Homo sapiens: one gene and its partners. The protein of the gene in region 3 purifies or fractionates together with the protein of the main gene of each other region. This does not show direct contact. Each region holds a gene or a part of one and is shown on either strand. Other genes may lie near its edges. The genes, in order: PARP14, C1GALT1, FAM20B, RIC3 and PLEKHG3.

The links.
Region 1: the proteins of FAM20B (region 3) and PARP14 purify together in Homo sapiens (co-immunoprecipitation; one large-scale study listed by IntAct). This does not show direct contact.
Region 2: the proteins of FAM20B (region 3) and C1GALT1 purify together in Homo sapiens (co-immunoprecipitation; one large-scale study listed by IntAct). This does not show direct contact.
Region 4: the proteins of FAM20B (region 3) and RIC3 purify together in Homo sapiens (co-immunoprecipitation; one large-scale study listed by IntAct). This does not show direct contact.
Region 5: the proteins of FAM20B (region 3) and PLEKHG3 purify together in Homo sapiens (co-immunoprecipitation; one large-scale study listed by IntAct). This does not show direct contact.

The regions. Positions count from the first base shown.
Region 1 is NC_000003.12:122,712,617-122,718,838, forward strand, and holds part of PARP14 (protein mono-ADP-ribosyltransferase PARP14), read left to right. Parts: intron 1-648; coding exon of another isoform or gene 649-659; exon of another isoform or gene 660-807; coding exon 808-957; intron 958-1,255; coding exon 1,256-1,318; intron 1,319-1,645; coding exon 1,646-1,813; intron 1,814-5,454; coding exon 5,455-5,661; intron 5,662-5,742; coding exon 5,743-6,222. UniProt on the Homo sapiens protein: ADP-ribosyltransferase that mediates mono-ADP-ribosylation of glutamate residues on target proteins. In contrast to PARP1 and PARP2, it is not able to mediate poly-ADP-ribosylation.
Region 2 is NC_000007.14:7,178,394-7,185,375, reverse strand, and holds the start of C1GALT1 (glycoprotein-N-acetylgalactosamine 3-beta-galactosyltransferase 1), read right to left. Parts: upstream 2,833-6,982; 5' UTR 2,556-2,832; exon of another isoform or gene 1,981-2,555; intron 1,951-1,980; exon of another isoform or gene 1,782-1,950; intron 580-1,781; exon of another isoform or gene 518-579; intron 1-517. UniProt on the Homo sapiens protein: Glycosyltransferase that generates the core 1 O-glycan Gal-beta1-3GalNAc-alpha1-Ser/Thr (T antigen), which is a precursor for many extended O-glycans in glycoproteins.
Region 3 is NC_000001.11:179,041,238-179,047,459, reverse strand, and holds part of FAM20B (glycosaminoglycan xylosylkinase), read right to left. Parts: intron 3,746-6,222; 5' UTR 3,613-3,745; coding exon 3,236-3,612; intron 2,688-3,235; coding exon of another isoform or gene 2,619-2,687; intron 1-2,618. UniProt on the Homo sapiens protein: Responsible for the 2-O-phosphorylation of xylose in the glycosaminoglycan-protein linkage region of proteoglycans thereby regulating the amount of mature GAG chains.
Region 4 is NC_000011.10:8,136,991-8,143,212, reverse strand, and holds part of RIC3 (protein RIC-3 isoform a precursor), read left to right. Parts: intron 1-3,019; coding exon 3,020-3,246; intron 3,247-4,865; coding exon 4,866-4,941; intron 4,942-5,741; coding exon 5,742-5,835; intron 5,836-6,222. UniProt on the Homo sapiens protein: Molecular chaperone which facilitates proper subunit assembly and surface trafficking of alpha-7 (CHRNA7) and alpha-8 (CHRNA8) nicotinic acetylcholine receptors.
Region 5 is NC_000014.9:64,737,232-64,743,453, reverse strand, and holds part of PLEKHG3 (pleckstrin homology domain-containing family G member 3), read right to left. Parts: intron 6,099-6,222; coding exon 6,079-6,098; intron 4,713-6,078; coding exon 4,599-4,712; intron 2,419-4,598; coding exon 999-2,418; intron 473-998; coding exon 1-472. UniProt on the Homo sapiens protein: Plays a role in controlling cell polarity and cell motility by selectively binding newly polymerized actin and activating RAC1 and CDC42 to enhance local actin polymerization.

The DNA of each region.
Region 1 (6,222 bases), on a different chromosome or scaffold from region 3:
ATCTCAACTCACTGCAGCCTCAACCTCTGGGGGCTCAGGTGATCCTCCTACCTCAGCCTCCCAAGTAGCTGGGACTACAGTTGTGCACCACCATCCCAGCTAATATTTGTATTATTTGTAGAGATGGGGTTTCACCATGTTGTTCAGGCTGATCTCGAACTCCTGGACTCAAGTGATCCACCCACCTCGGCCTCCCAAAGTGCTGGGATTGCAGACATGAGCCATTGTGTCTGGCTGGATTGACAGCTTTTGATTTTCTTTATCCTTAAGGGTTGATCAAATTTTCCTGGTTCTTTATATAACAAGCAATTTTGGAATACAGACTTGACATTTTAAATATTATGTTGTGAGACTAGGGCCACCCTTGGGTCAAAGCTGGGAGAGAAAAGAGGAAAAATTTTAAAACAGAACAAAATGGAAAACTGCCCCACTTAGCAGATTGCTTCTGCAAGTTTTGGCACCTTTCTTCAATCTGTCTGCTGTTATTGTAACTTTTCAGAGCTCTTGGGTGGTGGCTTTTTGTATTTGTCCTGTTTTTAGTTGTAATCAACGGGAGAGATAGGCTATAGTACGCTAACTTCACCTTGGTCAGCACCAGAGTTCATGTTTGATATGGATTCTATGTTCTAATTCTTTTTTCTTAAACAGATCATCACTGAGGCTGAGGAGCAGGGCCAGGTTAAAGACCAGAGGTCACAGAAAGAGAGGGAGAGGGAAGACATCCAAGAGGGTCCCATGTGAGCAGGATACCCAAGTCATTCTTGCTGTGGCTGACTCGGTTATTGACTTTACTTCTTTTCTTTTCAGGTTTTTATGGGACTGTTTCTAGCCCTGATTCAGGTGTGTATGAAATGAAGATTGGCTCCATCATCTTCCAGGTGGCTTCTGGAGATATCACGAAAGAAGAGGCAGATGTGATTGTAAATTCAACATCAAACTCATTCAATCTCAAAGCAGGTACTTGTACAATTTTGATGAGTGCAATAGTTAATGGTAGATGCTATGAAGGAGGGTTTCTATAGCCAAACTGGTTTTTAGAACTTTGGCTTGTTAATTAATAACTTTTAAATTATGCTGACAGGGTTTTCCATAATTAATAATGTTTATTTTATGAAGTTTTCTTCTTTGTCATCAGCAATACCCAATTAGAGGATTCCTCAGATGATGGAGAATGCATTCAGATAATCCTTCTGATCCAAATATACCATAGTGGTTTTTTACTCATGTTTGTTATCATCTTGATTTTCTCATGTAGGGGTCTCCAAAGCAATTTTAGAATGTGCTGGACAAAATGTAGAAAGGGAATGTTCTCAGCAAGGTAAGGCATATTCTATTTTTTGGTCCTAAGTTGTAATTGTATGGGAGGCTGTGGAGAGGCTGAGAAAAGTCTTAGGGTTGGGGAGACAACACTCTAATTTTAAAATGATACATTTTACTAAAGAATTCCAATCACAGACACTTAGAAGTGAAAAGTAATCTCACAGTTAAAAGTAAAGTTAAGTCATAGCATTCCATCAAAGATAGTATTTCAGGAGTTTTTTTTTTTTCACAAAATGCTTACTTGCCAAGTTATACATTTTGCTTTCTAAACAAATGACGGGTTCAACTTCTACTAATTTTGCATCTTTTTGTCTGTGTTTCCCAGCTCAGCAGCGCAAAAATGATTATATAATCACCGGAGGTGGATTTTTGAGGTGCAAGAATATCATTCATGTAATTGGTGGAAATGATGTCAAGAGTTCAGTTTCCTCTGTTTTGCAGGAGTGTGAAAAAAAAAATTACTCATCCATTTGCCTCCCAGCCATTGGGACAGGTTCGTAGCCTCTGGCTGTCAAGGCTAAATCCCAAGCCATCTACTTTCCCTTTCATTTGGAGCTGAGTGTGAATGCGGTCAGTGCTGAGTCTGACCCAGGGCAGCAACCATTAAGCTAGGAGTGGACAGCTTCCTCCCCATAAGACAACTCCCAAGGGAATGACAAAGCCTGTGGATTGTTTGAGTAAAAGAGGGACAAAATGCAGGAGACTGAAGAGAGTGTTAGAATGTTAGAGAGGCAGAAAGAAGGGAAGGGAAAATAAGGAGGAGAAGAGAAGGGAGAGAGTGGAAAGGCCATCCCTCATTCTCTTTCCTCAGTTACTTTCCCTTTTTCCATTCCCTACATATTCTCCATTATGCAGTCCTTAGCTTCCTCCTCTTTCCCCTCTCCATGGAGAATATTAGTACAACAACTTCCACCTCACTCTAGCTGATTCCCAGAGGAATATTACCAGGCTTCAGCTCAACAGTCAGCTGTGTCACTTGGCCTCAGGGCATTTCTGTGTAGAAGCTTCTCAGTCACCAGAACCTAGTGGGTCAGAAACTCAACTCTCCACTTTCCTCTTTTCAGCCTACTTGCTTCTTTGATTTTCTTCTTTTCCTAAAACTAGGTAATGATAGCGTGATTTTTCATATATAAGGATGGCGCTCTGGATTTATCATTAATTAGGTGGTTTTTTTTTTTTAATTATACTGGGGTACATGGGCAGAATGTGCAGTTTTGTTGCACAGGTGTTCTTTGAGCTCTTTAGGAATCCCTGCTTGGTCTCCTTCAGAGAGCTGGTCAGGGGAGGCATGCATTCTTAGGCTTGAAGTCAACGGAGCTGCCTTGTTCCAGTGCGAGAATAGTCAGCATCGGATCTGTCATTCTGTTGCTCGGGAATCTAAGTTTGAATCTCTTATGCTGGCATTCTAGGCTTTCCAAAAGGTTATCCTCAATAAACTTAACCATCCTTGTCAATTTCTGGGCCTTCTTCTAACCCTCTGACCCATATCTGTAATTCTGTACCATTTCTTATAATGTTCCGAGATGGAATTCTATGTCTATTTTACAACTTTTCTATTTCTAAAAGTATAATTTTTGATCCCTTTGTTTTCATTCCCCTTAGAGTATCATCTATTCCTAGCAGATTAGCCAACATTTCTCCTATCTCTCTCTACCAGTCATCTATCTATCTATCTATCTATCTATCTATCTATCTATCTATCTATCTATCTATCTATCGATCTGTCTATCTATCTCTATCATCTCTCTACTGACTTATCTTTTATGGACACCCACCAATGACTCCTCAGTCTCTGTCTCCATCTGTTTTTTTCTCTGAGCTCTAGTCTTGGGTTTCCACCTTCAGTTGATTTGGGCCAAGAAAGCAAGCAGCTTAGGGGTGCCACAGACCTTCCCAAAGGAGTCCCTGGTAGAGTCAAAAGAAGAAACAAAGAAAGAAGGTAGGTTTCGTTTTGTATAAATATGTACACATTTGAGCATTTCTGGACTCAATTCTGGACTCAACAACAAATCCTGTTGTTTCTTCCACTGACCTGGTTGCATTGCTGGTCAGCACAAATAAATCAGGGTTAGTGGGTTATCCTTGCATGTCCTCTTTACCTATCTTTATCACCACCTGAGCTGGTTCTGAGACTGATAGATGTAGAAGCTTTCTCTTTTAGTGGTGTATATGAGTTGAATTAAGACTGTGATCAAGACAGCCTCTGGCAGTTAAAGGAGCCTCCTCTCTGTTCCTTAAAGACACCTGCATAAGAGGAGAGATTAGGTGGTTAGCAATACCTGTGATCACCTCAAGCTCAACGCAGACTCCAAACTCTCATTCCTTGTCATCTCCCCAAACCTGCCCTTCCTCTTATATCCCCAATCACGTGAAAAACATCACTTTCCATCTAGAGTCCTTGACTCTACCCTCTTCGTCACTCCGATCTTCATTAGCTTAGGAATTATTTGATTGAATATTTACTGAGTGCCTGCATCTGCAAGGCACCATGTTTAGGCTCTGGAGATAGAAAGATAACTAAGAAAAGGATCCAGTTCACAAGGAGCACTGAGCCCAGTGTGAGAGACAGGCATGCAAACAAACAACTGCAATGCAACGTGAACCATGATATAGTGAAGGTATGTGTATGGCAAAAGACAGAGAGGGAAAGGTGAAGGACAAACCCAGCTGGTCCCTAGGTACTCCTGACTTTACTTCCAAAATAGCTCCTCAATCCCTATTCTTCATTCTGGCCTCCTCTTTTTGTTCAGCTCTTGTCTTTTGACTAAGCTTTTATTACAGCGTCCTAACTAGACCTGGGCTCCCCGCTCCATGCTTCCTCCATACCCCTCCAGACTTAACTTCCTCAAAACTAGGTCTGTTCTGCATACGTGCCAGGCTGAACATATACCCATTACATAGTTCCATCTGGCATAGCCTTTCCCTCAATTTTCCATATTTCACCTGTTGATCACCTGTTCATCCCCGCATATCACATCATCTGTGTTCTAGCAAGTGCCTAGTGAGTACCTAGCCAGTGATAGGACATAGCAGATGTTTCTTGAAAGTGAATGAATGTAACTGAATGTGTCCATATAAACTCTTCAAAATACCATGGGAAAATTACAGCTTTGCAAAAGAGAATTTCCCTCGTTCTCTGATCATCTGATTTAAAAAGATTTGAACAACCCCCCTTGGTTAATTTTATGTGGGGTTGTCTACATTCCCACAATTGTCAGCATAGCCAAGTCAAAGAAGCCTACTCTTCTTCTGCAATAGTGGTGGGTACCATCAACAACAATTAGCCAGGTGGGCTCTTAGTCTGTCACATCAGCTTGGCCAAGGAACTTTTACATTGCCCATCATGTGACTTTGCCAGCTGTTATTCACATGGGACTGTTCCCCCAGCTGGAAAGGGACTTTTCATGATCTTACCTAGGCTGTTGCTTTCATGGCTTGAGAAGGAGGATATGGAGTATGCTGAAAACAGGAAACGCTCTGCTTCAGGTGGCTACCTTGAATCCTGCTGGTCAGCTAAAATCTCACTGAGTGTGGAGGGAAAGGCTTCTTGGAGGCTTATAGATAACTTGTGTCTGAAAAATTATAGATTATAACAAATAGCCTGTAGCACTGGGTGTCTTACTAAATTTTGCTTAGTTCAAATTAGGTTCCCAGAGATATCTGGGAGAATAAGGATACATACATAAAATCAAGTGATGACTGATCCTAAAAAAGATTTTCATCTTTAAAAAGTATTTTATGTCAACATATATTAGCATCTGCTTTTTATGAAATTTCAAGGACACTAGCGAGCTAAGTAGAAAAGCTACTTGTGCTCTGTAATAGGAGAGGAGGAACACAATGAGCTGGGATCAGTTGAATAGAGTAGATATGATTGTCAGACACCAAAAGTCAGATTTCTGGGTCCTTTGTTCACTGCTAGGCTGTGGGCTTCCTGACATCCTGGAACAAAAACACTTCATTGCATCTAGGACTTCAAAAGTGTTTGCTGATGCTTTGTTAGAAAATTCCACAATGATGAAAGAATTGAGGAGTGGGCATTTATTCTCTGAGCATTGGAAACCCTAATTTATTCCTCAGCCTTCCACTTGGGGCTTTTTTGTCCTTCAGCAATTTTATTATTTGCTTTTCCAGGAAATGCCAAACAACACCCAGATAAGGTTGCTGAAGCCATAATTGATGCCATTGAAGACTTTGTCCAGAAAGGATCAGCCCAGTCTGTGAAAAAAGTTAAAGTTGTTATCTTTCTGCCTCAAGTACTGGATGTGTTTTATGCCAACATGAAGAAAAGAGAAGGGACTCAGCTTTCTTCCCAACAGTCTGTGATGTCTAAACTTGCATGTGAGTTCTTTGTTTTTATGAAATGCATGTTCATAACGTTGATGTCACATGTGAAATACCTAATCTTCCTTTTCTTTTTAGCATTTTTGGGCTTTTCAAAGCAATCTCCCCAAAAAAAGAATCATTTGGTTTTGGAAAAGAAAACAGAATCAGCAACTTTTCGGGTGTGTGGTGAAAATGTCACGTGTGTGGAATATGCTATCTCCTGGCTACAAGACCTGATTGAAAAAGAACAGTGTCCTTACACCAGTGAAGATGAGTGCATCAAAGACTTTGATGAAAAGGAGTATCAGGAGTTGAATGAGCTGCAGAAGAAGTTAAATATTAACATTTCCCTGGACCATAAGAGACCTTTGATTAAGGTTTTGGGAATTAGCAGAGATGTGATGCAGGCTAGAGATGAAATTGAGGCGATGATCAAGAGAGTTCGATTGGCCAAAGAACAGGAATCCCGGGCAGATTGTATCAGTGAGTTTATAGAATGGCAGTATAATGACAATAACACTTCTCATTGTTTTAACAAAATGACCAATCTGAAATTAGAGGATGCAAGGAGAGAAA
Region 2 (6,982 bases), on a different chromosome or scaffold from region 3:
TACAATGACCAAGAATGCAAATAACTATGCCAAGCTGTATTTAATTTCAAATTCTGCCTATTATCCAACATCTAGCCGTTTAAATGTGCTTTAATATACAGGTTTCCCATTCCAGAATCTCCCTAATATTGCCTCTCGTTGCCCCCAACACGCCCCTTCAATGTGCAAGGCAGCACATACTACAGGTGCTAGATAATTTATTTAGACTTTCCTTTCAGTTTCCCCCACCTTCTTATGTGCTTCCCTAAATCACAAACACCAGTTTCTTTATATATTTTTTTTCTCCCTCTTCCTATTCTCACATATTACAGATTTTGGCATATATATTCCCCTTGGACATTTGAATTAGCTGCAAAATAATTTAAGTACACATTGGAGTTCCTCTCTAACCAGATTTTAAGATAAAAGGCTAACTTCTCATTTTATGGAACAAGTCTCCTTCCCGCTCCCCACCTTTCTTCTTTTAAAAGAATGACTTAATCCCACTGAATTTGAAGTAAAAAGATTTTTGTCATACCTTTCTTTCAGCCTTGCTATAGTTTGTACATCAGCGTCTTTAATCAAATCTTAAGAAATCTTCTAAAAGAAAAGATGGTTGTATTGGGAAGCTTAAACTTTTAAGCCTATCTGAATTTAATTTCAGCATCAAGCTTTCCATTTTCTACTTAAGGTTTATTTATAGCTGCACTGTCACAAAAATTCCAATCAATGATTTTACCACACAAAGACTCTAAATTACCATGGCTTATAATGTTAAACTGCATAATGCAATTTTAATTTTAGCACAAATCAATACACAAATAGTAGCATGTGCCTAGTGACATACTTTTTCATATTTCTATTAGGTAAACAAGAACTCATTATGTGTACCCTGAAATAAATTTGTGATACAATTTTAAGAATAACTGGATATTGAATTTACTCAACGTAGTCTAGTCTTAAAAAGCATAATTATGAAAAACTTTAAATAGGAAACACAAAATATTTCTAAAATGCTTAATCCTAAGTAGGAAGATACAAAAAAATACACATTCCAGGCAAATTTGAGAGGCATTTAGTAGCTCTCCACTAATACTGAAAAATTATTCTCTTTATGAAGAATTTTAAATGAGTCATACTTTCCTTACTAAGTCATTGTTTCACTTACCATAAGGTGAAGAGTTAACTGTTTGCTAACTTGAAACTTTATATTCACTTAAACTGTACATCTATATATAAAGACTGGTAGAAAGTATAGTGTACTATATACAATATTTAGAACATACAGCATCATGGGCATTAAGCTCAACTGCCATTTACCTAAGAGGGTGAAAAGCTGTCATCTAAATACCTTCTAAAAACTCGGATTCCAACTTCCCAAACTCACACCAGAATGAAGCAACTTGAAATTATGCGCACTTTTTCCTGGCAGAGCTATGTTCTATGCCCAACTTTTAGTAAGTTAACATATTTCTCTCCCTTACACATCGGCCAATTATTCATTGATTCATTATGGTTCTAAATTTATAACTTTTAAATTCATAATGAAATCAATCCATGGTTAGCACAATAGTTTTCTATCTTAAAAAAGCGTTAAAAGGAAATACAGTAGTATGTACAATGGATATAGAGAACTAGGTTAGAAATCTTGAGAATTTTTCCAGGATGTGTGGGTTTTTTGTTGCTGATACTGTTGTTTGCTTTAAATGCGGGGTGGTGGGGGGTGGGGAGACGGTAAGGACCAGGAAAGAATAAATCCACAGCGCTAAATTATGGTCATCTTTTAAGAGTGTACGACTTACCCAAATTCAAAGCAAATGGACAACTTGTCAACACCTACTAATTCCATCACAATTTGTTGGGGAAAAATGGGGTGCAGAAGCAAAAAAAAAAAATTTAATGCCTTTCTTCCTCCTCCATGCCCCGAATGCCCCAACACACACGTATCTGCTTCACTCTGCGGCAGGGAAACTTAAAGAAATAAATCAGCTACAGACAAACCTGATGATCCAAGCTAGACCCAAGCAAGCTCCAGGCACCTCTGGAAGGAGCCCGCTCGCTGGGCGCTCAGGCGGCGCGGCAGCCGAGTGGCTCCCCGGCGAAGGTGCCCAACACCTGGGCGCCCAGTCCGGCGGGACCCACAGGTCTGCGGCGGGGCGGGGAGGGCCCGGGAGGAGGGACTGGGAGGGCCCGGCGGGGCAGGACCGCTAAGTGGTCCGGTCCGGGCGCACTGCGCGCCCCGCCGCGCCGCCAGGCAGCGCGCGAGCAGAAGAGGGGCGCGAGCGGGCACAAGGGAAGGACCCACGACGAAGAGGAGGGTACATGTCCACAAAATTGAGGCCGGGTACGCAGCCGAACGCTGTGGCAGATCGCTAAGGCTCCGGGAGCGGGAAGTCCTCGCGCCTTCCTCAGGAGCCCGGACGACCCCAGCCCGGCTTTGACCCCGAGACACCTGTTCCGCCGCGCCCGGGGTTTGGTTCCATCCTCCACGCTTCCCCACCAACCCGGAGAGGGGGGAGGGCGAGGGGAGACGAGACCTTGGACCCGTAGCCTGAGGGCGCCTCCGCCGGCCATACCTGACATCAGCTGCGGCTCCCTCTCGCCCCTCCTGGGGGGCGGAGAGGGGGACGACTTGGGACTGGTGACCTTTGCTTCTCTGGGCAGCCGCAGAAGTGGCTCGTGGCCGCTAGCCGAGGCCGCCCGCTGCCGCCCAGATTATTCCCCGGCAGCGGCAGCACAGCGGCGGCGGCCAAGGCGGGCCCAGCGCGCGCTCCCGCCCGCTCGCTCCGCCCCTCCCCGCAGCGCGTCCAGGCCGTGGCCCGCCTATGGCGCAGCCGCCACCCGAAGTCTCCTGGCGCTGACGTCTCCGCCGCCGCACCAGCCCCAGGGAAGGGCGGAGCGGGAGGGGCGGTGGGCGGGGATACGGCGACGTGAGGAAGCGGGGATTGGCTGCCGGGTGCACGCTCCGCCCTAATGCGAAGGGGTCTGGGAAGTCGGATCTTGCACGAGCAGTAGATTTTGTTGTATCCCCCTTGCGGCTTGTGTCTGCTACTCTCCGCATTTCTGATCCTGCTGTAAGGTTATGCACTAGCTTCAAGACCTTGAGCGGGACGAAAGCAGGGTAACAATAGGGAGCGAGAAAGGGGATGCTTGAAGGACCTTTGTCTGAGGTACAGGCTCTAACCCTGCAGGACTCTTGTGGCCTGTAGCCTGCTCTTAACCCGTTCATTTGTTTTTCTGTTCTCTCCCCGTGCTCTCTTTACTCAGTATCTCTCTGGGCTTAATAAAAGGAAGTAATAAGATGAAGTATGCATACGGGTGCTGGGTCATCATGTGAGAACCAGGAAGAGCTGAGAACCGAGATAATGATACCAGAAAGCTTTCTATAGGCACATTTCGTCTTTGGTTCTGTCAGCACTTCGGTTCTGTGGGGCAATGGCCGGAAGAGCTTCTTAGGGGCGTAACAAAACCTATCTCCCCTTTCGCTGGGCTCTGAATAAGGAAGTTGTCTTTGGAATAGGGGGAGGAGGCTGCCACCTGTTGAGGCAACCCCACAATAGTCATGAGGTGAGGGTAAGGTTTAGTCTTTACTGGCGTTAACCATTATCTACAAGACCACGTTCCAGAATAGGAAAGCTACCCTGCTTCCTTTAAATGCCCTATCCAAGCGGTTCTTTAGTACTCTACAGCATGGTTGTTAAAGAGTATGGGCTCTGAAATCAGACTGCCCGGGCTGGCATCTTGGTCCCTCCACCTATTGGCAAGTTACTTAGAATGCCTGAGACAAATAATAATATACATTAGTTATTGTTATTTTTCCTTTAATTTGCTTAGGTTCAGCTGTAGTGTAGTTTCTCAGGACATTGCATCAATATATCCAAAAGAATTGTGAAACATAAAGCACATGTAGTGATTCTAATACAGATGTCTCATTTTTCAGATGACAAAACTAAGGCCAGAAAGATAAACTGATAGGTCCATGTTAGAAGAGAAGTGCAGCTATCCTGATGTCCAGGTTATTGCTCTTTCCTTGGCTCATGGGTCCAGACTTCTCTGCCTTACATGATTACGTCCATTCTCTACTCCTCCCCAACTTGTATACAGTTGTTGCTCAGCCTCCTCCCCCTCCACCTTTCCGCAATATCCTTCCACCTTTCCGCAATATCCTTCCACCTTTCCGCAACATCCTTCCACCTTTCCGCAATGTCTTGCCATCCATTGTGAAACATGGAAGGAGAACTCTTTCAGGGGTCAGTGTTCCAAATAGAAACCAAAACTCACAACTCCTTATCTCGTTTTAATTTTATTAAAAGTTATAATTAATAAAGAATAACACTTTTTTCCATTGAGCAAAGATTAGAACCCTTTCCTAAAATAAGGTCAGCCACAGCCTTATCCTGGAAAATTACTTGCTAGAAACAATACTGGACCAAATCAGCCCTGCCCCCACCCTGCCTTTCTTTGAAAATAGCTTTTTTTTTTTTTTGAAGAGATATGGTCTTTCTATGTTGCCCAGGCTGGAATGCAGTGGCTATTCACAGGTGTGATCTTGGCACACAACAGCCTCGAATAACTGGGCTGAAGGCTGAAGCAATCTTCCCGCCTTAGCCTCCCCAGTAGTTGGGATTACAGGCACAGGCTGTGGCACCCAGCTAATAACTATTGTTTTATAAAAACAATACATGCTTATGCAAACAAATTTAAAAAATTTAAACAAAAATGCAAAGAAGTTAAAATCTGTCCAAATACCATAATATAGAGATAACCATTTCTTAAATTTTGTGTTACATTCTTCTAGGCATCTCTCTAAGAATAAAAGCACATATAGACATATAAATACAATATTTCATAAATTGGATCGTATTATCTGCACAGTGAACAACAGTCATGAATAACATCATTTTTAAAAGTTGCATACTGTCTGTTAAATGGATATACCATCATTTATCCAACCAGTATTCTATTGATTGACATTTATGTTTCCAAGTTTTTACTACCATAAAAAAAGTCTCTGATGAACATTCTTATCCATAGGCTTTTGCACAATTGTGCAATTATCTCCTTGAACACATTCCTAGAAGTGACATTAATGTCAGCCAATTCTTCGACATTTTCAATTAGAGAATAAAAATTGTGGTTACTTTGAAAAATATACTTTATATGTGGGACTCAAAACTGACCAGATTCTCCCATTTGAAACATACTTGAAACACACATAAACCTCAGTATTGTTGTTTCTCTTGTGTCTAGTGTTTAATAATGCATGTCAAAACTCGTTGGAGTAGGTCGGTAGACATTACTAGTTGTCTAAACCAAAATCCTTTCTTCTTTACTAGTAGAACTCTGATTTCTTCAGGGTGACAATGTGGCCAGTTAAAAATATTCATGCCCCTAGACTTTCATAAGTCATGGCTGGCCATGTGACCATCAATTAAATAAAAGTGAATTTCTGTAGAGGAGACTCAAGGAAAGCTTTATGGAAGAAATATCGCTTTAGCCATTTGATATGCACCCATCCCTTTTTTTTTTTTTTTTTTGAACCTGAAACAGGGACATGATACTGGAGGTAGAACAGCCATATTTCACCCATAATAACAAAAGCCACACAGACACTATTAATAGTGTAGGACACCAGAGGTGCCTAGGTCCATGGTTGCTTTGGAGGGCCAACTTACCAGGTCTGGACTATCCACTTCTGGATTTGTTGTTAGGTGAGGAAGATTATATCCCTTCTATATAAGATTTTGTTATTGTCTGTTGTAAGTATCAAATGCAATTCTTAGTTGACATAATAAGATAGGCCAAGTCATCATTTATTTAGCACTATATATAGAATTTTTTAATAGACAGAATGAGGTGAAAATGGTGACAGAAAATGCAAACAAGCTAGCAACAACATTAAAACATTGTCTTCTTTAATAGACTTAGTTTCCCTTTAAATACCTACATTTTACAAATATATTAACACCAGTTTATAATAATTAAGTTAAATTTCGTGTATTAAATTTTATTAACTCATATGGTAGTATTAAAATATGTTCACAAATTATTTGATACTTCTTCCTTCAAAGGGTCAAACTTCATTCCCCTCACCTTGAGTTTGGACTGTATTAAATGACTTGTTCTCATGAATAGAATGTAGTGGAAATGATGTAATGTGACTTCTGAGGGGAGACTATAAAACATGCCAGACTTTTTATTCTTTCTCTAGGATTACTTGTTGGGGCCAGGTAGCTGTTATGTCAGAGTCATAAGGTCACTCAGGCAACTTATAAGGAGGCTCACATGGTGAGTAATTAAGGCTTCTAGCCAACAACCGGTGAGGTATTGAGGCCTTCTGACAAGAGCCATGTGAGTGAGCTTGGAAGCAGATCCTCCAACCCTTCAGGCCTTCAAATGATTGCATGCATCATGGTCAACATCTTGACTGTAACCTAGAAAGAGACCCTGAGACAGAACCATTCAGCTAAGGTGCTCCTGAATTCCTAGGCCACAGAAACAGTGAGATACTAAATGTTTAAATGATTGTTGTTTTAAGCCACTAAGTTTTGGGATAGTTTGTTATACAACAATAGGTAACTCATACAGCTGGATATAATAGAGCCTAGCACAATGCCTGGCACACATGCAGGTGTTCAATTATTTGTTGTTTGAATGAATAAATAATTGAATGAAGTATATCTTTTTCACTTTAGTAGGTAGCATACAATGTTAGGATTATCTTTGCTCCCTGACACCTGTATTATCTAAGGGTTTTTTGATCTCTTATAGAGAGATGTAGTGTGAATCTTACTGAGAGCTAAACTTTGCCAGTTGTGGAAGTAACATGGTGAATAGAACAACGGAATCCTTGAAACTTGAATTCTGCCCCCAGTTGTTTTTCCTCAATCAATTTTTTTTAATTTTTTAAAAATTAATGAGTTAACACAAAATTAAACCATGTCTTGAAACCAGACAGCCATCTTGTCTGCCATCTCCAAGCAAATTACAGATTGACTCATAA
Region 3 (6,222 bases):
CTGAGTATAGAGAGGAGGACCAGACAGTCAGGGGCTTGACCTTAGGCTGTGGAGGCTGGGTTTTGTCTGGTGGGCAATGGGAAGTCCCTGGATGTTTTAAAGCTGGGGAACATAGTGATAATAAGTCTTCTGGGGAAGAACGGGGAAGAACGGAAGTGGTTTCCAGGATGGTCTGGAGGAGGGAGGTAATGAGAAGGCTGCAGTGGTAGTAAGAGATATAAGATGAAGCAAGAAGTGACTAAGGTTATGCATTATCTGTTACTACCTCCCCTACTCATCAGTCTGGCCTCTCCTCCCACCACTTATATCTTGTCTGAACATTTCAGGCCTATCCTGCAAAGCACCTGGTCTAACACTGCACGCTCTTGGGAATATCTGTCTTCTAACACACTTCCTGCTGTCCCAACTCCCCTTCAATTCTCCAGTGTACAAGTGGTAGGTGTGATGAGGATCTCTTTTTTTTTGAGACGGAGTTTCGCTCCTGTTGCCCAGGCTGGAGTGCAATGGCGTGATCTCGGCTCACTACAACCTCCGCCTCCGGGTTCAAGCGATTCTCCTGCCTCAGCCTTCCGAGTAGCTGGGATTACAGGCACGTGCCTAGCTAATTTTTTGTATTTTTAGTAGAAACGGGGTTTCAGCATGTTAGCCAGGCTGGTCTCGAACTCCTGACCTCAGGTGATCCGCCCGCCTCGGCCTCCCAAAGTGCTAGGATTACAGGCATGAGCCACCGCACCCAGCCAGATCTCCTCTTATTTAAACACAAAATGCTCACAACTCATCTCTTTATTTATTTTATTTTACGTTTTTGAGATGGAGTTTTGCTCTTGTTGCCCAGGCTGCAGTGCAATGGTGCAATCTCAGCTCACCGCAACCTTCGCCTCCCAGGTTCAAGTGATTCTCCTGCCTCAGACTCCTGAGTAGCTAGGATTACAGGCACATACCAAAACGCCCGGCTAATTTTTTGTATTTTTAGTAGAGATGGGGTTTCGCCATGTTGGCCAGGCTGGTCTCAAACTCCTGACGTCAAGTGATCCGCCCACCTTGGCCTCCCAAAGTGCTGGGATTACAGGCGTGAGCCACCGTGCCCGGCCATCTCTTTATATACAAATTTTATTTTTGTCTTTAGTTTGCCTTTTTCCATTACTCTGTTTATGCTGCTTATCTCTCAGGCCAAGAAGTCAAAGACCAAACTTCAAAGCTAAATGCGATTTTTGATGATGAGTGCTCCACGTCATCACTTATGGGAAGCAAACAAACTTAGAGAATTCCATGTGTGTGGCAGAATACAAGCTGTTTACAACTCTAACAAATATGGGTTCAAACTTCTGTACCACTGATTGATGTGAGGTGACCTTGTCAAGTTAGTTACACTCTCTGAACCTCAGTTTCTTATTCAGGAAATAAGAACTGAAATTGTCCAAAAAGGTTAAACCTTCGTATAAGGGTTTAAAGGATTAAGAGATACAAAAGTACTTAGTGTAATCCCTGGCAAATAGTGTGCATTACAGAAATTAGATCCCAGGCCCACATAACCACGGTTTTTTTTTGTTTTTTGGTTTTTTTTTTTGAGACAGGTCTCACTCTGTCACCCAGGCTGGAGGGCAGTGGCACGAGCATGGCTTGCTGCGGCCTCAAACTCTCGCACTCAAGCAATCTTCCCATCCTCCCACCTCAGCCTTCCAAGTAGCTGAGACTATAGGTGCACACCACCACGCCCAGCTAATTTTTTATTTTTTTATAGAGACAGAGTCTCACTACATCACCCAGGCTCAAGTGATCCACCCACCTCGGCCTCCCCAAGTGCTGGGATTACAGGCATGAGCCATCACGCCCAGCCCCAGTCAAATTTTTATTCTCTGAAAGTCTACCAAATGTTTTAACTTTCCTAATTTCCACATCACTGACATATATTTCCCAGTTCCAGACCAACAGTGATCCCTTCCATTTCTGGGCTCCCTATACATTCATGCTCTGACTGCCTTTCATTTACTAATAGTTGGGTAAGAAAGGGAGTTGAATTTTGTCCATCTTTTCCCTACATTTCTTCTCCCACTCCAGAAAGAAATCTAAAGTCATGTTATAATTTTTTCAAAAGCTCTACTGAGGAATGAAAAAAATGTTTAGTACCCAAAAGATTTCAGACATTACAAACTTTGAGAATATTCATTGGTAACTAACTCCCGGCAAAAGAATACAAATCACCATCATGATGTTAACCTAATTCAGATTCATACACTCAGAAAACATTTTTAGAAAATTAACTATACCCTCCAAGCTGTCTTGTGTAGAGAAATAAATAAATAAATAAAAATAATTAACTGTATCACAGAATTGTCACACAAATTATCTCTGTAGATCCCTAGGAAGTCCAAAGGGATCATGAACAACATACATATTTAGTTAACTAAGGTAACTAAAATGGCCCAATTCTTTACTTAAAACAGGTGAAAGAAATAAGAGATCTATTAGAACAGCTATGATCTGAAACACTGATGCCAAACCCTGGTGAGGATGTGGAGCAACAGGAATTCTCATGCATTGCTGGTAGAAACACAAAATGGTACAGCTACTTTGGAAGATAGTTTAGCAGTTTTTTACAAAATGAAACGTACTCTTACCATGTGGTCCAGCAATTATGCTTCTGGTATCTATCCAAATGAGTTGAAAATTTATGTCCACACAAAAACCTGCACATGGATGTTTATAGCAGCTTTATTCACAATTGCCCCAAACTTGGAAGCAACCAAGATGTCCTTCAGTAAGTGAATGGATAATTAAGCTGTGGTACATCTAGACAATGGAATATTATTCAGTGATAAAAACAAATGAACTATCATGCCACAAAAAGATATGTATAAACCTTAAATGCACTTTACTAAGTGAAAGAAGCCAATCTGAAAGGGCTTACATTCTGTGATTGCAACTATATTACATTCAGGAAAAGGCAAAACTACGGAGATAGTAAAAAGACCAGTGGGTTACCAGGTGTTCTGGGGCAGAGAGGGAAAAATGAGTAGGTAGAACACAGAGGATTTTTAGGGCAGGAAGACTATTCTATATGATACTATAAAGGTAGATTCATGTTAAGTGCTAGAAAAGACTTTAGAGATCTAGTCTACCCCTCTTATTTTACTGAAGAGACTTCCAAGAGAAGATGACAAAATAAATCTTATATAAATCCCAAGTTAAATGAATCAACCAACTAGCACATGCAGCTTCCAAGATCAAAACTTACCGCTTAGGTTTGAAAACAACTTTCTGGCCTCCTTCAAGTATCAGTAAGGCTTTCAGCTGTGTCCCTTTATAACCCACATCAGCTTTAATGATTTTCTTGGTGGCCATGGCATGCATGACTGCCCCCAGCTCTGGTGTCTCTTCAGGGTACACTTCCCGGGGAACCACCCACTGGGCTGCAATCTCCCAGGGAGACTGCAAGGTATGGTCCAGCTTGGGTGCCAGCTCCACCCGCAAGCCAGTCATCATTCGGTGAAAGGCCCTCTGGTCCTCCCGGTTGGCAGCTGATGTATCTAAGTTGTCAATCAGGAAAACTTTGGTGAAGATAAAAATGACAAGGAGAATTGCTAACAGCACGACTCGCTGCTTTAGCTTCATGTTGACCTCTTTTCCTTCTCCCCTGACCCACTCTTGCTCATGTATTAAGGAGAGCTGGTGGTGATGGTTAGCAAGGAGATTCCATGATTATACACATTGGTCCATTTCTTCACTGATGCACCTTCCACAGTTCCTGCAAGCCCAAGTACAAAGCAAAATTTGATCAAAAATTCTGTCCTTCCACCCCTGAATCTTTTGTAAGCCTCTAATATATGACTCACCCTTTTAGGCTTTCTATTCTTGAGCTCAAGAAGGTTCAATAATTTAAAATTAACTAATCTGGAGAAGGACCTAATGATGGCAGCAGTGGCCCAACTGGAGCAGCTGCTGCGAAGACACCAGCTGCAGTGGGAGAGGCATGGCCAGGGCTGCACACTCCACGGAGCTGGAAGGAGCTGGGAACAGGTGGGAGCCCTGCCCTCTTCCAAGATGGTGGAGCAGGGGCCCCGTGTTCCTGGGTACAGCTGCAGCCACCCAGCCACAGCTACACCCACAGGCTCCAAAATGCCACTCCTGCTGCCTGGCCTCTCCCCACTCCCCGCACCCACTCTGGGGTGGAGCAAAATTGTGGCAAAGCCCAGGTGATGTCGTGACCTGTATATATGTGGTTGGGGCAGTGCTGATACACCAGGCCCCTGCTGTCTCAGCCCACTCCGGACTTTGGGCACCAATGAGCATGGGAGGGAGGCCAAGGGAGGACTGAGGATGGCTCAGTGTAGGCCTGCAGGCATCCCTTGGTACAAACAGCTTGGGCACTGTGGATGACATGAATGGTGGCAGGAGGCAGGCTCCTGGGCGGAAAGGGATGGGTCCCCAGTGAAGCCCCACCTTCAAGCCAGGGATGGCCTGAAGCATGGGGGCTGGGCTGTCGGTTCTGGTTAAGAGTCCGCAAACCACAGTGAGAACTTATGGTGCTTTTTCTGGGCCCACCCATGGCCACCCATGGGCCAATCAGCACACACTTCCTCTCTTCTGAGCTCATAAAAACCCTGCACTCAGCCAGACTCAAACAGATATCCGGACAACCTGCGTGCACAAGGGATCTACCCACTGTGGGTCTCCTCTCCACTGAAAGCTAGACTCTCATCAGAACAACATGGCTGCAGAAAGAGCTATCCACTTTGGGTCTCCAGAGAGCTGTTCTATTGCTCAGTGAAGCTCCTCTCCACTTTGCTCACCCCCAGTTGTCAGCGTGGGGCATGGGACAAGAACTCAGAACCCACCAAATGGCAGGACTGAAAGAGCTGTAATGCAAACAGGGCTGAAACACACCCCCTGCTCACCATGTGGTAGGCAATCAGAAAGAGAGAAGAGCTGGGGCCCTTTGTGGAGCTCAGACCTAGGGTCTCCCCGAGCCAGGGCTGTGACATCCTCTTTGGGGTTCTGAGGTTCCTGGTGTCTCCAAGTTTCTGGATGCCACCATGTTCCCCTTGTCCAGACATGGGCACCCGCAGCAGAAGCTGCATGTGATACTCTGGTCCAGCTGCAGACTCACACAGAACCGGCAGCTGTGCTTATGCTTGGAGCTGCCTACCCCACCACAGCAGCCCCAGCGTGCGTGGCTGTGTACAGTGGCCAGACCCCATGCTAGCTTGTCCACACACCCCTTGCTGCTCTGCACCTGGCTTGCCCTTGGCAGGTATAAGATCCAGGCCAGTAGTACGAGCTGAGCACGGCCTGCAAGGCTGAGTGGGTAGAACGAGCCCAGTGGGCACAAGCACTACTCAGGCAGAAGGCACCACGGCCACAGAGGTTTCTCACTGGCAAAGTGACACCCCAAGGATCCTGTGACACTAATAAGCAAGAACCACATACACTGAAAATTTTAAAGCAAATATTTCTATTTTAATTGGAATGCAAGCCATCTAGGAGCCATGAGGTTGGCTACACATGCCTAATAACCAAAACAATGAGGAAAAACACAACAAAAACAAAAGAGCAAGCTATACATAATTGTTTAACTTTCATTTTTTTAACTTTCAAAATCCATAAAGGACTTTTGCATATCCCAAACCACCAGTATTTGGTTCTCATTCTGGTAAGACAACAATTCCTAAAAATGCCAGAGGGTCCTTTCCCTCTCCCCTCTCCCCTTTCCCTGCCCGTCTCCCTCTCCCGGCCCGTCTCCCGTCTCCTGTCTCCCTCCCCGTCTCCCGTCTCCCTCTCCCTCTCCCTCCCTGTCTCCCATCTCCCGTCTCCCGTCTCCCCACGGTCTCCCTCTCCCTCTCTTTCCACGGTCTCCCTCTGATGCCGAGCCGAAGCTGGACTGTACTGCTGCCATCTCGGCTCACTGCAACCTCCCTGCCTGATTCTCCTGCCTCAGCCTGCCACACCTGACTGGTTTTCGTATTTTTTTGGTGGAGACGGGGTTTTGCCGTGTTGGCCGGGCTGGTCTCCAGCTCCTAACCGCGAGTGATCCGCCAGCCTCGGCCTCCAGACGTGCCGGGATTGCAGACGGAGTCTCGTTCACTCAGTGCTCAATGGTGCCCAGGCTGGAGTGCAGTGGCGTGATCTCGGCTCGCTACAACCTCCACCTCCCAGCCGCCTGCCTTGGCCTCCCAAAAGGCCGAGATTGCAGCCTCTGCTCGGCCGCCACCCCGTCTGGGAAGT
Region 4 (6,222 bases), on a different chromosome or scaffold from region 3:
GAATACCCTTTATTTCCTTCTCCTGCCTAATTGCCCTGGCCAGAACTTCCAACACTATGTTGAATAGGAGTGGTGAGAGAGGGCATCCCTGTCTTGTGCCAGTTTTCAAAGGGAATGCTTCCAGTTTTTGCCCATTCAGTATGATATTGGCTATGGGTTTGTCATAGATAGATCTTATTATTTTGAAATACGTCCCATCAATACCTAATTTATTGAGAGTTTTTAGCATGAAGGGTTGTTGAATTTTGTCAAAGGCTTTTTCTGCATCTATTGAGATAATCCTGTGGTTTTTGTCTTTGGCTCTGTTTATATGCTGGATTACATTTATTGATTTGCGTATATTGAACCAGCCTTGCATCCCAGGGATGAAGCCCACTTGATCATGGTGGATAAGCTTTTTGATGTGCTGCTGGATTCGTTTTGCCAGTATTTTATTGAGGATTTTTGCATCAATGTTCATCAAGGATATTGGTCTAAAATTCTCTTTTTTGGTTGTGTCTCTGCCCGGCTTTGGTATCAGAATGATGCTGGCCTCATAAAATGAGTTAGGGAGGATTCCCTCTTTTTCTATTGATTGGAGTAGTTTCAGAAGGAATGGTACCAGTTCCTCCTTGTACCTCTGATAGAATTCGGCTGTGAATCCATCTGGTCCTGGACTCTTTTTGGTTGGTAAACTATTGATTATTGCCACAATTTCAGCTCCTGTTACTGGTCTATTCAGAGATTCAACTTCTTCCTGGTTTAGTCTTGGGAGAGTGTATGTGTTGAGGAATTTATCCATTTCTTCTAGATTTTCTAGTTTTTTTGCGTAGAGGTGTTTGTAGTATTCTCTGATGGTAGTTTGTATTTCTGTGGGATAGGTGGTGATATCCCCTTTATCATTTTTTATTGTGTCTATTTGATTCTTCTCTCTTTTTTTCTTTATTAGTGTTGCTAGCGGTCTATCAATTTTGTTGATCCTTTCAAAAAACCAGCTCCTGGATTCATTAATTTTTTGAAGGGTTTTTTGTGTCTCTATTTCCTTCAGTTCTGCTCTGATTTTAGTTATTTCTTGCCTTCTGCTAGCTTTTGAATGTGTTTGCTCTTGCTTTTCTAGTTCTTTTAATTGTGATGTTAGGGTGTCAATTTTGGATCTTTCCTGCTTTCTCCTGTGGGCATTTAGTGCTATAAATTTCCCTCTACACACTGCTTTGAATGCGTCCCAGAGATTCTGGTATGTTGTGTCTTTGTTCTCGTTGGTTTCAAAGAACATCTTTATTTCTGCCTTCGTTTCGTTATGTATCCAGTAGTCATTCAGGAGCAGGTTGTTCAGTTTCCATGTAGTTGAGCGGTTTTGAGTGAGATTCTTAATCCTGAGTTCTAGTTTGATTGCACTGTGGTCTGAGAGAGTTTGTTATAATCTCTGTTCTTTTACATTTGCTGAGGAGAGCTTTACTTCCAAGTATGTGGTCAATTTTGGAATAGTTGTGGTGTGGTGCTGAAAAAAATGTATATTCTGTTGATTTGGGGTGGAGAGTTCTGTAGGTGTCTATTAGGTCCACTTGGTGCAGAGCTGAGTTCAATTCCTGGGTATCCTTGTTGACTTTCTGTCTCGTTGATCTGTCTAATGTTGACAGTGGGGTGTTAAAGTCTCCCATTATTAATGTGTGGGAGTCTAAGTCTCTTTGTAGGTCACTCAGGACTTGCTTTATGAATCTGGGTGCTCCTGTATTGGGTGCATATATATTTAGGATAGTTAGCTCCTCTTGTTGAATTGATCCTTTACCATTATGTAATGGCCTTCTTTGTCTCTTTTGATCTTGTTGGTTTAAAGTCTGTTTTATCAGAAACTAGGACTGCAACCCCTGCCTTTTTTTATTTTCCATTTGCTTGGTAGATCTTCCTCCATCCTTTTATTTTGAGCCTATGTGTGTCTCTGCACGTGAGATGGGTTTCCTGAATACAGCACACTGTTGGGTCTTGACTTTATCCAATTTGCCAGTCTGTGTATTTTAATTGGAGCATTTAGTCCATTTACATTTAAAGTTAGTATTGTTATGTGTGAATTTGATCCTGTCATTATGATGTTAGCTGGTGATTTTGCTCGTTAGTTGATGCAGTTTCTTCCTAGTCTCGATGGTCTTTACATTTTGGCATGATTTTGCAGCGGCTGGTACCGGTTGTTCCTTTCCATGTTTAGCGCTTCCTTCAGGAGCTCTTTTAGGGCAGGCCTGGTGGTGACAAAATCTCTCAGCATTTGCTTGTCTGTAAAGTATTTTATTTCTCCTTCACTTATGAAGCTTAGTTTGGCTGGATATGAAATTCTGGGTTGAAAATTCTTTTCTTTAAGAATGTTGAATATTGGCCCCCACTCTCTTCTGGCTTGTAGGGTTTCTGCCGAGAGATCCGCTGTTAGTCTGTATTTTCTTATCTGTATTAGTTAGGGGTGGCTAACTGCTGTAACAAATAGATTCCACAGTGTATAATGACCCTAACACAATAGAAGTTGATTTCTCACTCTTACAGACAGGTCCAGATGACTCTAAGTTAGTGAGGTGGCAGCAGTGGAGGGCTCTGCACTACATAATTATTTAGGAATCAGGTTGATGGAGGCTTTGCTGTTTCTACCCGTGGCTTCCAAGGTCCCCGTGGGTGTTAGCATCCATGCTGCAGAAAAGAAATGATCACGGAGTTGAATAACAAGGGAGATTTTATAGACCAGGCCTTGAGCTAGCACAGTCCTAGTCACATTCCTTGGTTGGAACTCAGTTTATATGGCCACATTTAACTGTATGGGAGTCTGAAAAATGTGGTCCAGCTAAGGACCCAGAGGGAAGAGAAAATGGGTTTGGTGAACAGCTAGAGATGATCACATCATATTTAGGATATGTGTGATACCTCTGTATCCTTTTAATTAAGTTGCCATTTTTTTCTTCTACTTGTTTGTGTTGGCCTCTTTTATACCTTAATGATTTGGTGTTTTCATGATAGCCATCTTTAAAATAGTAGAAGAGATAAAAAGTGATTATTATTTTCTCAGGAAAATTGGGCCGATTTCCACCTATGATGCATCATCACCAGGCACCCTCAGATGGCCAGACTCCTGGGGCTCGTTTCCAGAGGTCTCACCTTGCCGAGGCATTTGCAAAGGCCAAAGGATCAGGTGGAGGTGCTGGAGGAGGAGGTAGTGGAAGAGGTCTGATGGGGCAGATTATTCCAATCTACGGTTTTGGGATTTTTTTATATATACTGTACATTCTATTTAAGGTAAGTAGAATCATCCTAATCATATTACATCAATGAAAATCTAATATGGCAATAAAAATCATTGTCTACATTAAAACTTCTTATAGTTCATAAAATTATTTCAAATCCATCATCTCTTTAAATCCTGCCTCCTCTTCATGAGGTACTTAGGATAGCCATTATTTCAGTTTCACATAAGAAATGTTTACTCAATGTTTAAGTGTTTTGCCCCAAAATTCACAACTAACAAGGCAGAACTAGGACTTGAACATGGATCTTTTGGTTCTTAATCCAGTGAGTGATACAATTCAATGCACTCCCCTGCCAAAAAAAAAAAAAAAAAAAAAAAAATTAACATCTTTACAGGCCGAAAAGGAATAAAGATTTTCTAAGAAGAGCTTTTATTATTGGGATTGGCACAGTGATTTCCAAATAGCCATTGTAAGGCCAAATAATGACACCACTTTATCCTGCTTGTTTCTCCACAGGAATTTGAGATGCTGTTTTTAATATTATCTCCAATAATTCTCCTGAGACAGAACTGTCCCTCCTGAAATTAAGCCTGATATTTCCTAGCTCTGGGGAGACATGGGTGTAGGTTCTTTAAAGCAGACCCCCAGTTGAGTTCCACCTCCAGGCAGGCCTTTGCAGGCCCCTGGCCCCTGTACTGTGAATTAGAGGCAGAAGACTCACTTTGCCCTCCTGTCTAGAGTAAGCTTAAATAAGATGAGTTCTTTCTCGCCCAGGAATTCTGCAGGCAGTCTGAGTTGAGTCTGTAAGAATGCCCATAGGGTGCCACACATCCCTTTTAGATGAGCATGAGCAAGGAAGATGACCTGTAGGGAGATTTTTTTTCCCTTGTGTTAGAAATGCTTGTTCTCTGGTGCCATAAAGAAGCAGCACTTGGACGTACATTTAATTTCCTCAGCAAGGCCATTTTTACTTTCTGCAGAAAGGGTACACTCACCAGCGGTTTTGCCGTGAGAGTACACCGAACAAAGGAGACAGGGTCATTTATAACCTGACGCATCCACCTTACTGCTGTGTCCGGTTTCCATTGGCTGGAACGGGACCTCACATTCTGTATTTGTGCTGATTGGCTAGCGACTTAGAACTTTTTAAAAGAGGCAAAGGCAGAGGAGAACAAAGGAAGGAGGAACTAACTTGTGGAATGCTGAGAAAGGTAAAAACACCTTCATATAAGGAAGAGGAACAGGCTATGACCTCATGCTTGCTTTGACAAGTATAAGCATGCCAGGGCAAATATTTAGGCTAAACTGTGGGAGCTAAGAACAGTTGATTTCTTTATTATGGCTAGCAGATATCTAAGCATGTTAGCACAGGTTCTTGAATAAATTTTGCTTCTAAGAGAAGTTACTATTCCTAATTATATGGGGAGTAAAGTCTCTTTGAAGAGGAATCTCTACTTTACTTTTTACACTTGTGCTTTGATAATTTTTTACTTGGAAACCTCATCTTTTGGCGTTTTTTTTTTTGAGCTATTTCTCTAGTGTTGCTATTTGATTTAATTTCTGACCTTCATTTTTGTTTCCCAACCTTTTTTTTTTGTTTGATATGAGGGGTTCCGTGACTGAGGTTCTGAGCTGCTGTTGATGTGCTATACCTCCTTCAATTCTCAGCTCTCAAAGGGGAAAACAACTGCAGAGGATGGGAAATGCTATACTGCCATGCCTGGAAACACCCACAGGAAAATTAGTAAGTGCCCCTTCTCAGTATATTCACAGGTATTATTGAGTCAAACAGTTTTATAGCCACAGGGACAGTCTGTGGGTATGTCTTAAAAGCATTTCTCAAAAGTTGCTCCAAATTAATCTGATGCCATTTTTGCCTTAGTTCTGGGAATTCTCAAAAGTTTTTATATTGATGTACTACAAAAAGTACAAAACCACCAGTTCACTTTTTAATATATTAGCAAATTAATATTTCACGTTTGGAATGACTTCTCATTTTCAGACTTCAAAATATTGGTAGCAGAGAGCAAAATGGAGGCAGAGAAATCATATCATTGCCAAAATCAGTTTTTAGATCTAGGGAAAGAGTTTAACACTTCTGACTGTTGAAACATGGCCATCAGATACTTATTATACAACTAGAATATTCTGTGTTCTCTAGGGAAATTAAATTTATACAACATGGCTCTTTCCTCAAGAATTTATAGACTAGAATGTATGTCAGGAAAAATAACCTATGAAAAATTTACCACCCGCAAGTAAGAGACTTGGCAAAAGCATTGCAGGAAATCATGTTTATCTGGGCTGTAACTGCTTTTTGGATTTACTTCTGGATTTTCTATGGAACTAAATATCCCAGTCACACTTTGCATCCTTTTTGGAAATCTTAAATATTCACAGAATCCTTTAATAAAACTGCGGTGTTCTTCAATGAGATAGTAATGGGAAGTTAGACAGTACAATAGCTTTTTAAAAATTTGTGGTCTCTTTAACAGGTTTAGGGAGTTGTCTCTGATGGTTCTTAGATTGTTGCTTATTTTTTAGCCAGTTTTGAGCTTGCTCAACTGCAAGAAAAACTGAAGGAGACAGAAGCAGCCATGGAAAAATTAATCAACAGAGTGGGACCTAATGGTGAGAGGTAGGTTTTCATGTAACGGGACTCAGACTATTTCTCATTTAGAAAATAAATTCAGGCTGGGTGCAGTGGCCGAGGCCTCTAATCCCAGCACTTTGGGAGGCCGAGGTGGGTGGATCATCTGAGGTCAGGAGTTTGAGACCATCCTGACCAACATGATGAAACCCTGTCTCTACTAAAAATACAAAATTAGCCAGGTGTGGTGGTGCACACCTGCAATCCCAGCTACTCGGGAGGCTGAGGCAGGAGAATCGCTTGAACCTGGGAGGCGGAGGTTGCAGTGAGCCAAGATTGTGCCCTTGCACTCCAGCCTGGGCAATGAGAGCGAAATTCTATCTCAAAAAAAGAAAAGGAAAGAAAATTCAAAATTATGCTTTTTTTTTGATAAAT
Region 5 (6,222 bases), on a different chromosome or scaffold from region 3:
GTGAGGTCTGCAGTGACATACAGGGTCTCGCCTCCATCCGGCTTGCTCTGGGGCAGAGGCCCAGGGGATTGGGCAGCCTCTCCGCCTCCCCGGCCCCTCTTGGTGCTCAGGCTGCGGCAGCGGCCCACCCTGCCCGACAGAGGTGGCTCTACCATGTTCTCCGGCACCGAGTGGCTCCTGTTGACGGGTGGGCCGCGGGGCCGGCCGCCCCCTGCTCGGCGTGCCTCATCGCGGGAGGCATACTTGGAGCAGAGCTCACGGACGTCGGGCCAGCTGAAGGTCTCTGTGGGGCTGAGGGGGCTCCGGGCGGAGGGCCGGCCCCCAGGCGAGGTGGTCCTCTGGCTGACAGCAGACGGGTTGAAGAAGAAACGCTGTGGTGACATCTCCCCAGCCGAGGAGGGCTTGGGAGGGCTGTGCTCCTGGGCCATCAGCTGCTCATAGTCAAATAGAGACAGCACCGGCTTCCTCTTACCTATGAGGAGAGAGCAAGCTGCCTGAAGCATGGGGCGGGAGGGCAGAGCTGCAAGGGGGTGCTCTGAGCAGGCCCCAACTCACTTTCCAGGCAAGGCTGGTTGTTGGGGTTTTGGGTGTGATGGGAGAAATCTCACTTACCATCCACAGCCTCTTTCATGAAGGGCCATAGGAAGAATGAAGAAAAGGCAGTGGAAAGGGGTCAGGAGTCAAAGGCAGAGGGGGAGAGCTTCTGCTCCCATCCTGCTAAAGGAGGGGCCTGGGGCCATGCTTCCTCCAGAAGCCTCTGCTGGATGGGAAGGGCCAGAGCAGAGGGCATCAAAAGGGCTTAACCAAGAGAGCAAGCTTGGCCTCAGAGCACTGGACTGGCTGCCAGGGCTCACCCTGTGCCCTTAGTGCCCAGGGTCCAGCTTCTCCCTTTGGTAGAGCCTCCTTAGAGGTCACTTTCCCCGAGGAGCCAAGTGGCTCCTTATTGACTCTTCAGTCCCTAGACTTGGGGAAGGGCCCACTTGCCGCTTCTGTCATACCTTTGCCACCTAATGGCTCTCCAGCCTCTTCCTGTAGACAGGGCACAGTGGGGCTCTTCCCATCCCTCTCAGGGGCCACCTTTTCCCACTGCAGTGGTGGCCTGGCCATCACTGGCTTGTTGCTCTTGATCCGGAGGCTGTACTGGCGGGCCAGCTGGTAGACCTTGTTCTTGACGCGCTCGCTCACGTGGCTGTCCATTACGTGGGAGAGCTGCACGATGCGGGGGTGCAGTGGGGCCACCAGCTCCCCCTGGGTACTGCTGCTCAGCTCCTTCACCAGCTCTTTCAGCTCCCGGGCCAGGTGGGCCGGGCTGCGCCCCTCAGTGGGAGAGGAGCTTTCCGGGGAGGCAGTGGCCGACTCCTCTGTGATGGCTCCCAGCTCATGCTCCTCCAGGATGAAGAGTGGCTCATGCAGGTCAAAGCCATTGGCCTGGCCCTGGCCTGGCCCCTTCCCAGGGCTCCCTCCGGAAGACTCCATTCCCTCCCAGATCTTCACAATTTCTGAAGATGGGCGGAACTCAGCATCTGAGATGGGAGGTGGGTCCCCTTTGACTGCCTGGCTTGGTCCTGGGAGCTCAAACAGGGCCCACGAAGTCGGCCGGGAGCCCACCTGTCTCTTGCTCCCCACTGGAGGTACTGGCTCTGGGTCTGGCCGGGGAAGGCTGTTGAACCTGGAGATGGAGTTTCTTACCAGTCCTTTGGGGATGTAGGAGAGGCTCTCCCGGCGACGGACGCTGAAGCCTGCATCATGGTGTTCTGCATTTTCATAATAGCTCTTAATCTTGTCTAGCAACAGCCGGTCTCGGGTGGAGAGTGCTGATTCCTTCTTCTTGCAGGAAGACCGGTCAGGCTCCACTGGGCAGCCTGGGCTTGGGGGCTCCATCCCATTGACAGAAGGGCTGTCCTCTGTGGCCACCCCCACACTGATGTCCACTTCTGGGGAGAGCTGACAGCTGAGGGAGTCTGTGGCACTGCCATGCCGGGCCAGGCCCTTCTCGCTGCCCTCCAGGCTGAGCACGCTGCTGCTCCGGCTGACCAGCCGCGGGCTCCCAAAGCCACTGGACTTGCTGTCCTCCTGTGCCACGCTGCTCCGCCGAGAGAAGCTGCTGACAAATCGCTCCGCAATGACGCTGGCCTGGTCCAGCACAGAGGGTGGCAGAAGGCTCTCAGGCTCCTGGGCGGCACCTCCCATTTCTTCTTCCTCCTCGCTGCTCAGGGCCTTAAGGTCCTCAGTGCTCTCAGCTGCCACGAAGTCCACCATGTCACCTGGGGGGTCCATCCCCAGAAGGCCCTGGTGGGCATCAAGCTGTGTCTCCAGGACTTCTGGAGATTCTGTGTCTGAAGGCGTCTCCTCGGCACTGGGCCCTTCCACAGCAGAAAATACCTCTTGCTCACTCCCAGCCTCAGGGTCCGGCTCAACCTGAAACATAGCAGAAAAGGCTCACATGAGTAAAAAGCCTCCTTCATGGGATCCGGGGAACAAGGGGACAGCATGGCCTGCTCAAGGCCCAATGACAGGGACCTGTAGTTTAGGACTCAAGGCAATCAGAATGAGCACGACTTAGGAGTAGGTGATGGGTCCTTAGAGGAACATGACTGTGTCCTTTAGTCACCGTACAGTGGGGGTGCTGGGCCCATGTCCTCAAAACCAAGGAAAACAGTAAGAATGCAGATGGGTCAGGATGGCAACACCTTGATGGCAGCCAGCCTAGGAGCTACAGGGACAAGGTGGGAACACACAACAGTGGGTTGGGCATGGCCCCAGGTTCCCAGGGGCTGGTTCTCACAGTGTCATGGAACCAGCATGGCTGATGGTGAGGCAGCTCCCCAAAGCCCTAGAGGCTCCTCACTTGGAGGTTCTAGGGTTCAAACCCAGACCTGCACAACATGAGAGGCCATTTCATTTTCCTCAGGGGACAGGGCCTCCCATGTGGATTAGGGTCTAGAGAGCAACACAGCCACATGCTGGAATCTCGTCAGAGGATGAGGACCAGGAATGTGGCTCCTCCCAGTACCTGTGGGCCCAGCACAACTGCATATGCCCAGGAAATGGGCAAGGAAGAAAGCAAACTTGAGAATTCCCTCTTGACCACCTTGAAAGTAATTTGAACCACAGAACTGATGACATACGCGGCTTTCCAGAGCAGTCTTTAAGGAGATAAGAGCAAACACTAATTATAAGATCGGACATAATTCCTTCTGTTCTAGTTCAGAATCTGCAGAGCAAGACCCATGATCTAGACTTGCACTGTTCAACATGGGAGCCACCAGCCACTGTGGCTTTCTGAGCACCCGAAATGGGGTTAGGCCAGATGGAAACCTGCTCTTGGGATAAAATACACACCAGATTGCAAAGACTCTGTATAAAAAAAGGGATAAAACATATCAGTAACTTTTTATGTTGATTACATGTTAGAATAATACTCTGTATACATTGGGTTAAATAAAATATACTACTAAAATTAATTTCATCTGCTTCTTTTAAACTTTGTAATGGGTGGTTCTCATTGTATTATTATTTGACACCCCAATTTGCTCTGCTCTGAATGTCTGTGTATCTCTAAAATTGCCATGTGGAGGCTAACACCCAGTGTGATGGGAATGAGAGGGGGGGCCTTTGGGAAATTAGGTCACAAGGGCTCCATCCTCATGAGTGGGGTCAGATCCCTTACAAATGAGGATCAAGGGAGCTTCCTTGCCCCTTTGCCATGTGAGGACACAGCAAGAAGCCACCATCTACGAAGCAGAGGGCAAGCCCTCCCCAGGGTCTGCTGGCATCTTGACCTTAGAATTTCCAGCCTCCAAAACTGTGAGCAATAACTAAGCTACCCACGTAGCAGTAAGGGATTTTGTTACAGCAGCTCAAGCTAAGACATCATGCTACATTCCTGTCCAGTATCATCCAGGCTTCTCAGTCCTGGCTGTGGGGTCCAACATGGGGTCCAGGCTGTAGCTCACGATCTTTCCCTTATAACTTTGGGAAAGTAAAGGATGCTGCTTCCTACAACCCACAGACAGCATAGGGCAGCAGGAGGAGGAGAGTGGGCCTCTGAGTCCCAGCCCCAGGTCTGATCTCAGCCCCGCGCCTCAGAAGCTGCTCAGTGTTAGGCACGCCATCAACCACTCAGTGCCCTTTTCCTTCTAGAGCCATTGTGGGGAAGAGTAGGAAGAAATAACACATCAGTTACAGAGGAGGTGTCCAACAGATATCAGTTCTCTACCCTTTGCCCAGGTGACCACAGGTGTGATTTCAATGTCTGGCATGCTGGCAGGGACAGGGCCTTATAACCCATACAAGGTGGCCTAACGAAAGGAGCCTAATACCTGGTTCATTTCCACTAGCTGCGTGCCCTTGACATGGGACTGCATCTGCCCAAAGGGGAGCCTTTCTCTACTTCATAGAAAGGGGTGGTCTGCTCACCAAACCATATACTCTAGGCCAAACAGGCTTCATGCAGGGCTGAGAGTCCTGGGAGGTGGGGAATCTCTGTTCCCATGGGCCCAGTGGGAGAGCCTGTGCCTGAAAGCCCTATTTGCAGACTTGAAAATCTGGACTCCAAGTTCTTCCTACTATCCCCATCCCACCTGCTGGTCGCTCACCTCTGGCAGGGAAGAAATGGACTCGAAGCTCATGCGCTTCTCAGTACTGGTTGGAGACCGGCCACTGGGCCTTCTGCTGCTCCTGGAGCTTTCAGACTCCCTGCGCCCCTTTCCCTGCAGAGGTAGAGGTCAGTCATCAACTCCAAGACAACTGGAAGCTGATCCCTTCTGCATCCCAACACGGGCAGTGCCTCCCACGCCCCAAGGGGCTGGGCTGAGCTGAGAGCCAGTCTTGGACCTGAGCCATTCCAGAGCCAACCTGAACTGCCAGGCCTGGGGCTGCGGAAAGCCTTGTCAGGCATGCAGCTTCAAAAAACCTCAGCCCACCTTTCTGTCCCTCCAAAGTGGACTTGACCTTTCCAGCCCCACTGTGTGCTAGCTTCTCCCTGCCCCCACCACCCCACCCCACTTGTCATGCTTGTTGGGCGTTATATTGATTAGTGCCCAGTACTGGAACAGAGCATGCCAGGGGCTCACCAGGGTGTGACAGCGAGCGATGGTGTTAAGTGCTGAGGGGAGGAGTAAAACCAGGGCAGGGTGGGGTGAGGAGGGCAGCAGAGGGGGCCCTCGGGTGGGCATGCACATCCCAGGGAGCATGCAAGGAGGAGGGGAGATCGAAGAGACACCTCACCATAGCGCCCCGGGAGAAAAGTAAAGCGTTGGCCCGATAGTGCCAGCAGTGGAGGGCGGCCAGCAGGGAGCTGGCAAAGTCGGCTACCTGCTCCGCCACCGCCAGGCTCTCCTCCTGCTCCTCCTCCTCCTCCTCTGAGCCTGGGGGCTCCGGCCCAGCCCCCTTCTCGTTGCCTTCATGCCCTGTCAGGTCCTCCAGAGAGACCTGAAAGGCCTGCTCTTCCTCCTCCTCCTCCTCCTCCTCCTCCACCACCTCCTCCTCTTCCTCTTCCTCCTCCTGGGTAGCCCCTTCAGCCTCTGGCTGCAGGCCCCGAGTACGGGAGGGCTGCCCAAAGTCCAGGAGGGTTCCAGCACTGCCTGCATGCTGTTCAGAGCACAAGACCCCCTCGTGACCAGCCTCTTGGGCAACCTCCCGTCCTCCTGCAGGCAGCTGCGGGGGGGGAGCCTTCACACAGAAAGCCACACCTAGATGCCCAACTCAGGTTGCCACTGGGGTCCAGGGAGGGGTGGGCATTCTCATGGTGGAAAGGCTGGGACCTGGTCAAAACTTCAGAACCCAAACAGGCCTGCCTACTTGTCTACCCTAGGGAGAGGGAAATCTGAGTAGGTCCACACTGGGCAGGCCCCCAGCAGGGTGCTGTTCTAGGCAGAGGGTGCAGAAGGGCCCCCAGGGCAAGGCCCATGTCTTATTCATCTCTGTGGCCCTAAGCCACACAGCCTGGTACACAGTGGGTGCTTAGTAGGCATTTGTTGAATGAATGAAGACAATGAGGGCTGAAGGGGCCGGGGGCTGACCTGGGCAGTCCCACCCTCCTCTGTCAGCCAGTCCCCTCCTCCCACTGGCCTTTACCTTCATTCCTGCTGCTCGGGCTGCAGACATCACCACCGGGTCCCCCAGCACACGGGCGAGGGGCAGGGGAGGGGAGGGGAAGAGATCAGTAAGCAGGAAAAAGACCTCTGGACAGCTCCCTGGGGAAGTCCTCACTGGGGGCTC